Linked DNA regions of Homo sapiens. The protein of the gene in region 1 purifies or fractionates together with the protein of each later gene. This does not show direct contact. Each region holds a gene or a part of one and is shown in the gene's direction. Other genes may lie near its edges. The genes, in order: UCP2, ALDH3A1 and PIGR.

Evidence for each region.
Region 2: the proteins of UCP2 (region 1) and ALDH3A1 purify together in Homo sapiens (affinity purification with mass spectrometry; 2 studies listed by BioGRID and IntAct, with this or other methods). This does not show direct contact.
Region 3: the proteins of UCP2 (region 1) and PIGR purify together in Homo sapiens (affinity purification with mass spectrometry; 2 studies listed by BioGRID and IntAct, with this or other methods). This does not show direct contact.

The regions. Positions count from the first base shown.
Region 1 is NC_000011.10:73,974,076-73,977,060, reverse strand, and holds the end of UCP2 (dicarboxylate carrier SLC25A8), read left to right. Parts: intron 1-43; coding exon 44-238; intron 239-318; coding exon 319-420; intron 421-1,389; coding exon 1,390-1,570; intron 1,571-1,939; coding exon 1,940-2,054; 3' UTR 2,055-2,389; downstream 2,390-2,985. UniProt on the Homo sapiens protein: Antiporter that exports dicarboxylate intermediates of the Krebs cycle in exchange for phosphate plus a proton across the inner membrane of mitochondria, a process driven by mitochondrial motive force with an overall impact on glycolysis, glutaminolysis and glutathione-dependent redox balance.
Region 2 is NC_000017.11:19,741,734-19,745,382, reverse strand, and holds part of ALDH3A1 (aldehyde dehydrogenase, dimeric NADP-preferring), read left to right. Parts: exon of another isoform or gene 1-248; 5' UTR 249-253; coding exon 254-415; exon of another isoform or gene 416-1,813; intron 1,814-1,919; coding exon 1,920-2,151; coding exon of another isoform or gene 2,152-2,752; coding exon 2,753-2,838; intron 2,839-3,170; coding exon 3,171-3,379; intron 3,380-3,649. UniProt on the Homo sapiens protein: ALDHs play a major role in the detoxification of alcohol-derived acetaldehyde. They are involved in the metabolism of corticosteroids, biogenic amines, neurotransmitters, and lipid peroxidation.
Region 3 is NC_000001.11:206,939,943-206,943,591, reverse strand, and holds part of PIGR (polymeric immunoglobulin receptor precursor), read left to right. Parts: intron 1-3,007; 5' UTR 3,008-3,060; coding exon 3,061-3,103; intron 3,104-3,649.

The DNA.
Region 1 (2,985 bases):
GAGTGCAAGCCCGCTGGCCACTGACCCCATGGCTCGCCCACAGATGCCAGCATTGGGAGCCGCCTCCTAGCAGGCAGCACCACAGGTGCCCTGGCTGTGGCTGTGGCCCAGCCCACGGATGTGGTAAAGGTCCGATTCCAAGCTCAGGCCCGGGCTGGAGGTGGTCGGAGATACCAAAGCACCGTCAATGCCTACAAGACCATTGCCCGAGAGGAAGGGTTCCGGGGCCTCTGGAAAGGTGTGTACCAGTTGTTTTCCCTTCCCCTTTTCCTCCTCCCCGATACTCTGGTCTCACCCAGGATCTTCCTCCTCCTACAGGGACCTCTCCCAATGTTGCTCGTAATGCCATTGTCAACTGTGCTGAGCTGGTGACCTATGACCTCATCAAGGATGCCCTCCTGAAAGCCAACCTCATGACAGGTGAGTCATGAGGTAGACGGTGCTGGGTCTCACCCTTCCCCCATGCCAGGAGCAGGTGCGGGGGTCTAGCTGACACCAGAAGACCACATCTTTTCATCCTATTTGCCCTTTGCAGGGAGAGTAAGATATCTCTTACTTGCCATATTGAAGCCAATTGGGATGAAGCTCCCACTTTGCACATTGAGGAACTGAGGCTAGATTGGCAAAATGACTCTTTCAGGTCCTCAGAAGATGTCTCAGCTGGAGTCCCTGTCTGTTTTTGTTTTTTTGTTTGTTTGTTTTTTGTTTTTTTTGAGATAGAGTCTCACTCTGTTACCCGTGTAATCTCAGCTCACTGCAACCTTCTCCTCCTGGGTTCAAGCGATTCTTGTGCCTCAGCCTCCCGAGTAGCTGGGATGACAGGTGTGCACCAGCACACTGGCTAATTTTTGTATTTTTAGTAGAGATGGAGTTTCACCATGTTAGCCAGGCTGGTCTCGAACTCCTGGCCTCAAGTGATCTGCCCACCTTGGCCTCCCAATGTGCTGGGATTACAGGTGTGAGCCTCTGCGCCCCATCCTCTTGTTTGTTTTTTGAGACAGGGTCTTGCTCGGTTGCCCAGGCTGGAGTGCAGTGGGGTGATTAATGGCTCATTGCAGCCTCGACCTCCCTGACTCAAGCAATCCTCCCACCTCAGCCTCCTGAGTAGCTGGGGCTGACTACAGGCATGCACACTGTGCCTGGCTAATTTTTGTATTTTGTAGAGACAGGGTTTTTGCCATGTTACCCAGTCTGGTCTTGAACTCCTGGGCTCAAGTGATCCACCCACCTCGGCCTCCAAAAGAAGTCCTGGATTACAGGCATGAGACATTGTGCCCAGCCTCTCTGTCTCTTTAAAATCATGAAAACTCGTAGCTACTTAAGTAATTCTCCTGCCTTCTGGAATGATGGGTGAAGATCTTGACTGCCTTGCCTGCTCCTCCTTGGCAGATGACCTCCCTTGCCACTTCACTTCTGCCTTTGGGGCAGGCTTCTGCACCACTGTCATCGCCTCCCCTGTAGACGTGGTCAAGACGAGATACATGAACTCTGCCCTGGGCCAGTACAGTAGCGCTGGCCACTGTGCCCTTACCATGCTCCAGAAGGAGGGGCCCCGAGCCTTCTACAAAGGGTGAGCCTCTGGTCCTCCCCACCCAGTTCAGGCCTCTTGGCTATGCATGTCTATTGTGGGTGGGAGAGAACCACCTGGAAGTGAGTAGCAGCCAAGTGTGACTATTTCTGATCCTGGTCCTGGCATTTCACCAGCATTCACCTATCCCCTTAATTCCTTCCTCCCAGAATTGCTACCATCACTGTTTATTAGGTGTTAAATGGAGACTCAAAGGGAATTCATGCTTATAGCCAAGCAGCTGTGAGCTCAGTTCATTGAGTCCTCCCAGCCTCCTTTGGGACAGAGCAACTGGGTTGGATTGAATACCAGGCCCAGTGAGGGAAGTGGGAGGTGGAGGTGCCCCCATGACCTGTGATTTTTCTCCTCTAGGTTCATGCCCTCCTTTCTCCGCTTGGGTTCCTGGAACGTGGTGATGTTCGTCACCTATGAGCAGCTGAAACGAGCCCTCATGGCTGCCTGCACTTCCCGAGAGGCTCCCTTCTGAGCCTCTCCTGCTGCTGACCTGATCACCTCTGGCTTTGTCTCTAGCCGGGCCATGCTTTCCTTTTCTTCCTTCTTTCTCTTCCCTCCTTCCCTTCTCTCCTTCCCTCTTTCCCCACCTCTTCCTTCCGCTCCTTTACCTACCACCTTCCCTCTTTCTACATTCTCATCTACTCATTGTCTCAGTGCTGGTGGAGTTGACATTTGACAGTGTGGGAGGCCTCGTACCAGCCAGGATCCCAAGCGTCCCGTCCCTTGGAAAGTTCAGCCAGAATCTTCGTCCTGCCCCCGACAGCCCAGCCTAGCCCACTTGTCATCCATAAAGCAAGCTCAACCTTGGCGTCTCCTCCCTCTCTTGTAGCTCTTACCAGAGGTCTTGGTCCAATGGCCTTTTTGGTACCTGGTGGGCAGGGGAGGAACCACCTGACTTTGAAAATGGGTGTGATCCACCTTCCACCTCCAGCATCCAATCTGAAGCCCGTGTAGGTCATCTGGTCCATTTCTCTCTAGACCCAGGCCCTGTACTAACATGGGGAGTGCAGGAGCCACCTGAGAGACAGCAGTGCCTCCCCTTCCTTTGCCGGGCCACTTGAGCTCTTACTCAGAATCTGGTACTCTAGTGCCTGCCATCCCAACCCCCCACCCCAGCCGCAGGCCTGTTTATCTGCACAACAAGAGTGCTCCTGTGTGCCCTGCATCTCCTGCAGTTCCAGAGGAACATGAGACTCTTAGATGCTGTTGACTTTATTTTATTCCATTTTACAAATGGAAGGAAGACCCACCTCCCCCAAAGTCCCAGACCTTGTGAGAACAAGTCAGTCAGCCTCCTTCCACCCTCCACAGCCACAGCCACACCCACAGAGGAAATGTTACTGAACTGGGTGGAGCAGGCCCTGACTCCACAGAGGGTGGGTGGAGGCTGCAGGGCAAACATC
Region 2 (3,649 bases), on another chromosome or scaffold:
GCAGCAGTTCGGCTTAGGACTCGGGTTGCGGCGGGTGTCACCTTCTCAGGGGCTAGCAAGGCAGCCAGGGCCCAGGCGTCTGAGTGAGGGGCGGGAGAGGAGGCGAGGCAGAAAGTGGACCTTCCAGCGGAAAGGCCATTTTCCCCAAGGCCGAGCCCAGGGAAGTCCCTTCCTATAGAATTCAGGCAGGGTGGGAGGCAGGGCGCGCTCGTGCCCCTCAGCCAGCTGCAGGTGCTCTCTGTCCCCAGGCGCCATGAGCAAGATCAGCGAGGCCGTGAAGCGCGCCCGCGCCGCCTTCAGCTCGGGCAGGACCCGTCCGCTGCAGTTCCGGATCCAGCAGCTGGAGGCGCTGCAGCGCCTGATCCAGGAGCAGGAGCAGGAGCTGGTGGGCGCGCTGGCCGCAGACCTGCACAAGGTGCTCAGGCTGGGCGGCCGCCTTCTGCCAGTGTCGGGGCCATGCGATGGGGCGTGGGGGGAGGGGCTGGGGAGAGTGCGACCCAGAGAGGTTCAGGAAGGACTTGGGGCCACCTGGCCCCTCGGTCGCGGAGACTGGGCGCACCGCCCTCCCCTCCGCCGCGCCCCGCGCGCCCCCGCCGCCTCTTCCGCCCTCTGGCCTTTTCCTCCTGGCCCGGCCTCCGCGTCCCGCCCGCAGCGTCCCCCATTTCAACTTCCTGCTGCCCCGACACCCTGAACTTCTGGTCCTCCCCATTCCTCAGCCCCACGCAGGACCACTTGGTTCTCCACACCAGGAACCAGAGCAGCTTGGCACCCCGGAGGGCATGGGGGGCTCTCCCCTCCCTCCCAGTTCTCACAGGGGCTGTTCCGTCCCTCACCCTGAGCAAGACCAGACACCTCTGCATTCGCAGCCCCCTGCTGTCCCCACATGCTGCCTGGGGTCCAGCGCTCCGGAGCCCATCCTCCCACCGACTACCCTCTTTGCTCCTGCACTTTTATTTTTATTTTATTTTATTTATTTATTTGAGACAGAGTCTCGCTCTGTCGCCCAGGCTGGAGTGTAATGGCGCGATCTCGGCTCACTGCAACCTCCGCCTCCCGGGTTCAGGCAATTCTCCTGCCTCAGCCTCCCCAGTAGCTGGGACAACAGGCGTGTACCACCATGCCCGGCTAATTTTGTATTTTTAGTAGAGACAGGGTTTCGCCATGTTGGACAGGCTGGTCTTGAACTCCTGCCCTCAGGAGTTCCTCAGGAGGAGTTCTCGGCCTCTCAGAGTGCTGGGATTACAGGCATGAGCCACAGCGCCGGGCCTGCTACTGCACTTTTCAAGAAATGGCTCAGGACTTCTCATCTTAAACCAGAAACAACAAGGAAACCCATTCTGTTGACTTTACAGCTTCTGTGTTGCTCTTCACAGCCCAAGTTTATAAAAGAGACGCGTTTTCCGCCGTCTGCATCTCCTCTTCTCACCCCTGCTCCCCACAGGAGGCCCTGAGCGCCCAGCAGCCCTTGGTCCTGCATCCCCCTCCAGACAACTAAAGGGCCTGGCTCCCTCCACCCTGCCCGGATCCAGCTCCCAGTGCCCGAATCTATCCCCCCTCCCCGGATCCATCCCCCCCTCCCCGGATCCATTCCCACTGCCTGAATCTACTCTCCCCTGCCCGGCTCTATTCCCCCTACCTGGATCCATTCCGTTGCCCATGCCTGGTCCCTTCACCGGCTCTCTCCCCTGGGGCCGCAAACCTACCTGGGCCCCCCTCTGGCAGAAAGGGGTCCTCTCAGACCCACAGGTCCAACGGCTAATCCTGGCTCTGCTTCCCCTGGGAGCCTTCTGCGGCTGCCCCCACCCTGGGCTGGGTGAGTGACCCCCATCACCCTGGCAGCTGAGCAGTGGGGCTCCCCACTCGCCCCAGCTGCAGGCGGGCCCTGGCCCTGGAAGCTCACTCCGGCTCTGTCGCTGCAGAATGAATGGAACGCCTACTATGAGGAGGTGGTGTACGTCCTAGAGGAGATCGAGTACATGATCCAGAAGCTCCCTGAGTGGGCCGCGGATGAGCCCGTGGAGAAGACGCCCCAGACTCAGCAGGACGAGCTCTACATCCACTCGGAGCCACTGGGCGTGGTCCTCGTCATTGGCACCTGGAACTACCCCTTCAACCTCACCATCCAGCCCATGGTGGGCGCCATCGCTGCAGGTGCATGGCCCTGTGGGAAGGGAAGCTGGGGGAGCACCGTCCCCCAGCGTGGAGCCAAGCCAGGATGGGCTCAGGCCTGTGTTAAGAGTCCTGGGGTCAGATAAGGGTTTGCTGGGTCTGTCACAGGAGGCTGTGGGGACCAAGCTGTTTAGCCAGGCCTCTTGGTGCCTGAGGTCCAGTCAGGCTCAGGTGTCCACACCTGGTGATACAGAGAGGGCCTGCCTTCCCCCACCCCTGTTGGGGGGCTGGAGCTTCTGTCACCTAATATGCATCAGGGCTTCCTTCCTAGAATGGGCCAGCGCTGTTCTACCAACCGGGCCCCCAGAGCCTCTCTCCCCTTTCTGCTTTTCCTCCAACATCTCAGCAACTCAGAGGGCCAGGTGGTGCAGCTCTGGCCAGCGTGTGCCCGTGTGTGTCCCTCTGTCATGTGCCCGTGCGTGCTCCTGGGTGTGCCCCGTGACATGTGCTTGTTTGCTAACAACTCTTCCATCCACTGTCCCGAGGACACACAATGGAGGGGAGGCTTCAGGTGTGGTCCTTGGGAGGGCAGAGCCTCTGGTGAAGTACCCTGGGCATAGGCCTGGCTCGGTGTGCTCTGCAGGGAACTCAGTGGTCCTCAAGCCCTCGGAGCTGAGTGAGAACATGGCGAGCCTGCTGGCTACCATCATCCCCCAGTACCTGGACAAGGTGAGTTGCCCTCCAGGGCCTCGTAACTCCATGGCCTCATAACTGAGCTAGGGCCAGGTCTTTGGGGGGTGAGAAATAGTGAATTCTTGCAGCAAGGGGCCAAGCTACTGGTGGGGCTGAGGATTGTTCTTAGCAGCTGCCCTCTCTCATTGGGGTGAACAGAGCCCCTGGGCCAGGAAAGGCGGTCTACTGCCAGTTACTGCTACCCCCCGCCCAAGGTGGGGTGCTGAGCTTCGGGGCTGCTGGTCTTGGCCACTGCAACTCACCCACACTTGCAAGAGCGAGGAGGGGCTTGGTCTTTGCTGAGCCTCCCCTCTCTCCTTGCATGGAAGGATCTGTACCCAGTAATCAATGGGGGTGTCCCTGAGACCACGGAGCTGCTCAAGGAGAGGTTCGACCATATCCTGTACACGGGCAGCACGGGGGTGGGGAAGATCATCATGACGGCTGCTGCCAAGCACCTGACCCCTGTCACGCTGGAGCTGGGAGGGAAGAGTCCCTGCTACGTGGACAAGAACTGTGACCTGGACGTGGCCTGCCGGTGAGAGGCACGGGCCTGCTGGCTGCAGCAGTCCTTACTCTGCTTTCCAAGCACACATGACTGCACCTCATGCTGTGGGTCCACTCTGAGTAACACAGACACCCCCTGCCTCATGGAGCAGTGGTCCTTGCAGAAACTTACATGGGGGTAGGGGTGGGGACCACATGCACAGAAGACGTGTGGGGAGTCCCAGAAGGCTTCCTGGAGGGGGAGAGGTCTAGGCTGAGCTCTGTTTGCTGAGTGCGCATCACTGGGGAAGTGGTACTCCAA
Region 3 (3,649 bases), on another chromosome or scaffold:
ACATTTTATAAAAAGAAAAACTATCCTTCAGCACAGCTTACACTCCTGCCCCAATCCACAATTGTGGGGACATATGTTACACATATGTTGGGATACTAACTTAGTAAACTGAAAATGATCTAGCACATCCTAGCCTCAGCAGTGAAAAAACAACTGCTAGTTTAAGGACCAGAAAACGTGCCCTCATGCATGATATAATATCATATATATAAAACCCAATAAAGCAGGTCCCTTTGCTCATTTAAAGAGTGATAATGGGGTAGTGACCTCAAATTAGGATTCTGCTGTGGGTCTTGGGGTCGAGAATCCCTATAACCCTTAGATTTCCAACCTGTGTCATGAGGATAACAACATCTATCTCTTGGGTTGTTGTGCTGATGGATGAAGTCTTACAAGAAAAGAACCTAGCAAAGCATTTGGCACGTAGCAGGTGCCCAACATTATGTTCTTTTTCTTCCTTCCTTAAGCAAATCCTTTAAATCCAGCCCCAGCCACCCTGGGCTGGGGAGGTCTCCCGAGATTTGAATCCCCAGGTTTGGAAGAAAGTCTCTGGTTTTGAGAGGAAGGGGTCTGTAATGATTCTGAAAGCTCGAGGTCCTTTCAAATGCTACTAGAGAAATTGTGCTTCAAGTTTTAGCTTTGGGCAAAGAAGAGCTCCTGTTCCTGAAAGCAGGGGTATCCTCTCCTGCCAATCATCCCATCTAGGACTGGACTGTGTGCATCCCGCTGATGTTGCCATCTGCCCGACCTGCCTGTGCATGCCTGATGCTCTCATCCCTGGCTTGAGACCATGCAGAGGGTAATGGGTGCACACACATGTCCCCTCTCTACACAAACATGCACAGCCACCCAAACATGTCACAAAATGAGAAGTCTGGGACAGAGGTCAGGGTGGTCTTCACCTTGGAGAAGCTGGCATCTGACTCTCTGCAACCCAGGCCAAGTCCAGAGGAGGGCTGCATCCCCCAGCTCAGCTTGTGGGAAGACCACTCCTGTCTCACGCAAATATGAGGCAGCTTGCTTATCTAGAGGTGAGGACAGGAACAAGAAGCAAGGACAGCTGCTGCTGGTGTGGGTTCTTAAAAGCAGGCAGCATTTTGTCCTCCCACCTGTGACTGCACCCACCCTGTGCCAGCACAAGTAGAAAATGGTAGATCTCCCAGGACTTTGCAGCCAGCCCATCCCAACTGTTTCTGAGACTTCCTGGCCTCCTGAAAGCTGCTCCCACCTGGGAGCATCTCCCATGGCAGCTTGCAGTGCCCACGCAGGTGATGACATCCCAGCTAGTGTCCCCTGATTGCTTCCATGTTGGAGCTGACTGGTATTTGGCCAAGGCCCCACTCCAGGCATTAATCATTGACCTGGTAAGAAAGGTCTGGGGCAATTAACCGGACTCAAGAGAGCCTCAACGTTGCCATCTGACACCCATATTTGTTCCCACTCCCTCCCTTTATTCTTCCAAAGAACTGCAGAAACAAAATACCTTTATATTCACAAGGAAATAAAAGGTTCCTTGCTGGGAAATTCCCCTGCAACAAAGAAATAACCAAGATAAACAACTCTATTGCCTTTGGCTCAAGCTGGTGAAGGGAGTCTGGGAGCAGGAGCAGGGGCCAGGGTGGTGAGGGAGGTCTGGGAGATAACGCCCAGCTTCCTCCTGCTTACAGCGTCCTTATCTTTATGGGCACTCATTACTGCCCAAACTTACGATCATTTAACACTCTCTTTGTCAAGACAACTCCAAAGTTTAAAGTCTGTCAAAGTCTGGGAAAGTGGAGACTTCTGTCTCCTCCTCTAGGCTGTAGTTGGGGTCTTGATGACAGCTGCTGTCAGGCAGACCCCTGGGACCCTCAACTCTCCTCAGCCCTGGGCTGTGTCCACGGTGGAGACAAAGTCCACACAGGCTGCTCCGTCTGAGTGGTCTCATCTTCGATTCTTCATCTTTGTCTGCCAGGCCTTACCAGGCAGGATTACAAAGACCCTAACACCTAAGCTTTTAACCCCAATTCCATAACCAAGTTGCTGGGAAAACGTAAGCCTATCATTCAGCATCTCAAGACCTCAATGTTTTATCCATAAAATGGTTGTGATTATACCCGTCTGTCTTATTTCAAGGGAACATATAAAGCTCAAATGAAATAATGTAAATGGTAGTGCTTTCATAAGCAACAGGGTCTCTACAAATAACACAAATAAGCATAAGGTAAAAGCATGCTCTTGTATTTGGGGTGCGATACAGTAGTGGAGAGGTTAAGCACATGGACTTTGCAGTCAGACAAAGGTGGGCCCAAATCTTCCCCGACCCCCATTCTGTGTACCCCCACACATTTAACCCCATGTGCCCTTGAGGAAAGTACTTAACCTTGAAGCCTTCATTTCCTCCCATGTGAATGTGGATAAGGATACTAACCTCACAGGGCTGATATCAAGTCTGTATGAGATAGTACACATAAATTATTCAACACAGTGCCTGAGACAGAATAAGGGAGCAATCAATGGGGTTAGGACCATCATCATTACATTTACAGCCTTAATAATCATGACACCTCCTCTGTGGGTCTCAGTTTCCTCATCTGAACACACTGTGAAATATGTCAGCCCGCTTCACCTCCCAGGAATGTAGGGAGGGCAGCTGAAACAGAGAGATGGGGGCCACGTATTGGTAGGAACCAATCACCCAGCAAGCCATTCCTGAGATCTTACGGTGTGCCTGGGACTGTGTCTCATGGGCAGGGAAACAGAGCAAATGACACAATATCTCTATCCCAAAGGAGCTTGCAGCTTAGTTGAGAAGACAAAAGCTACTTCTAGCTATTAAGGATATACAAGTGTTGAAGGATGATAAGACTTTGAATTGTTATGGAAAAAGTGGAGGCACTGATTCATTCAACAGGATTTATGTCAGTTGCTGGAGATACAAAGCCAAATAGATGTCACAGAAACTCTAAGGTCAACTAGTCTTGGAAGACAAGGGGCGCTTCATCTCCTTGTGATTATTGTTTTTCAGCATTGCACAGGAGAAGTCGGCCTGAGTGGTGCGGCGCTCGGGACCCACCAGCAATGCTGCTCTTCGTGCTCACCTGCCTGCTGGCGGTCTTCCCAGGTGTGTCTGCCAGGCCCCAACTCTCCAAGCTCCACCCCTTCAGCCTGCCCGACTCCAGGGTTCACCTCCCTGGGGACACTAAAATCAGACTCATCCCCAGGGATGTCCCTCTCAAAGTTGGCACTTCCTTGAGGAAGAGTCATACAGAGAAGACACTGAAAGGCCACATCTGTGAGCATTGGAAGTCAGGGACAGGAATGGCACTTCCTAATCTCAAGGCCAGGGGTCTGTGAAAGATCTTCTTTGAGAATAACAAAGACCTTAACTTCAACCAAGCATCTCTATGACCCGCTGTGAAATCTGAGGGAAGTCACTTATCCTTTCTGGCTCTCAATATTTTTATCTGGGGGAAAAAAAAGAAAAGAAAATCATCTACAAAGTGCTTTTAGAAATATAAGGAAATAACACATGGCAAGTGCAAACATGTAACACCTTACGAAAGTGGTGTTATTGTTTGAAAAAACAATGGATGGCTGGATGCTGGCTCACAGCTGTAATGCCAGCACTTTGGGAGGCCAAGGAGGGTGGATTGCTTGAGGTCAGTAG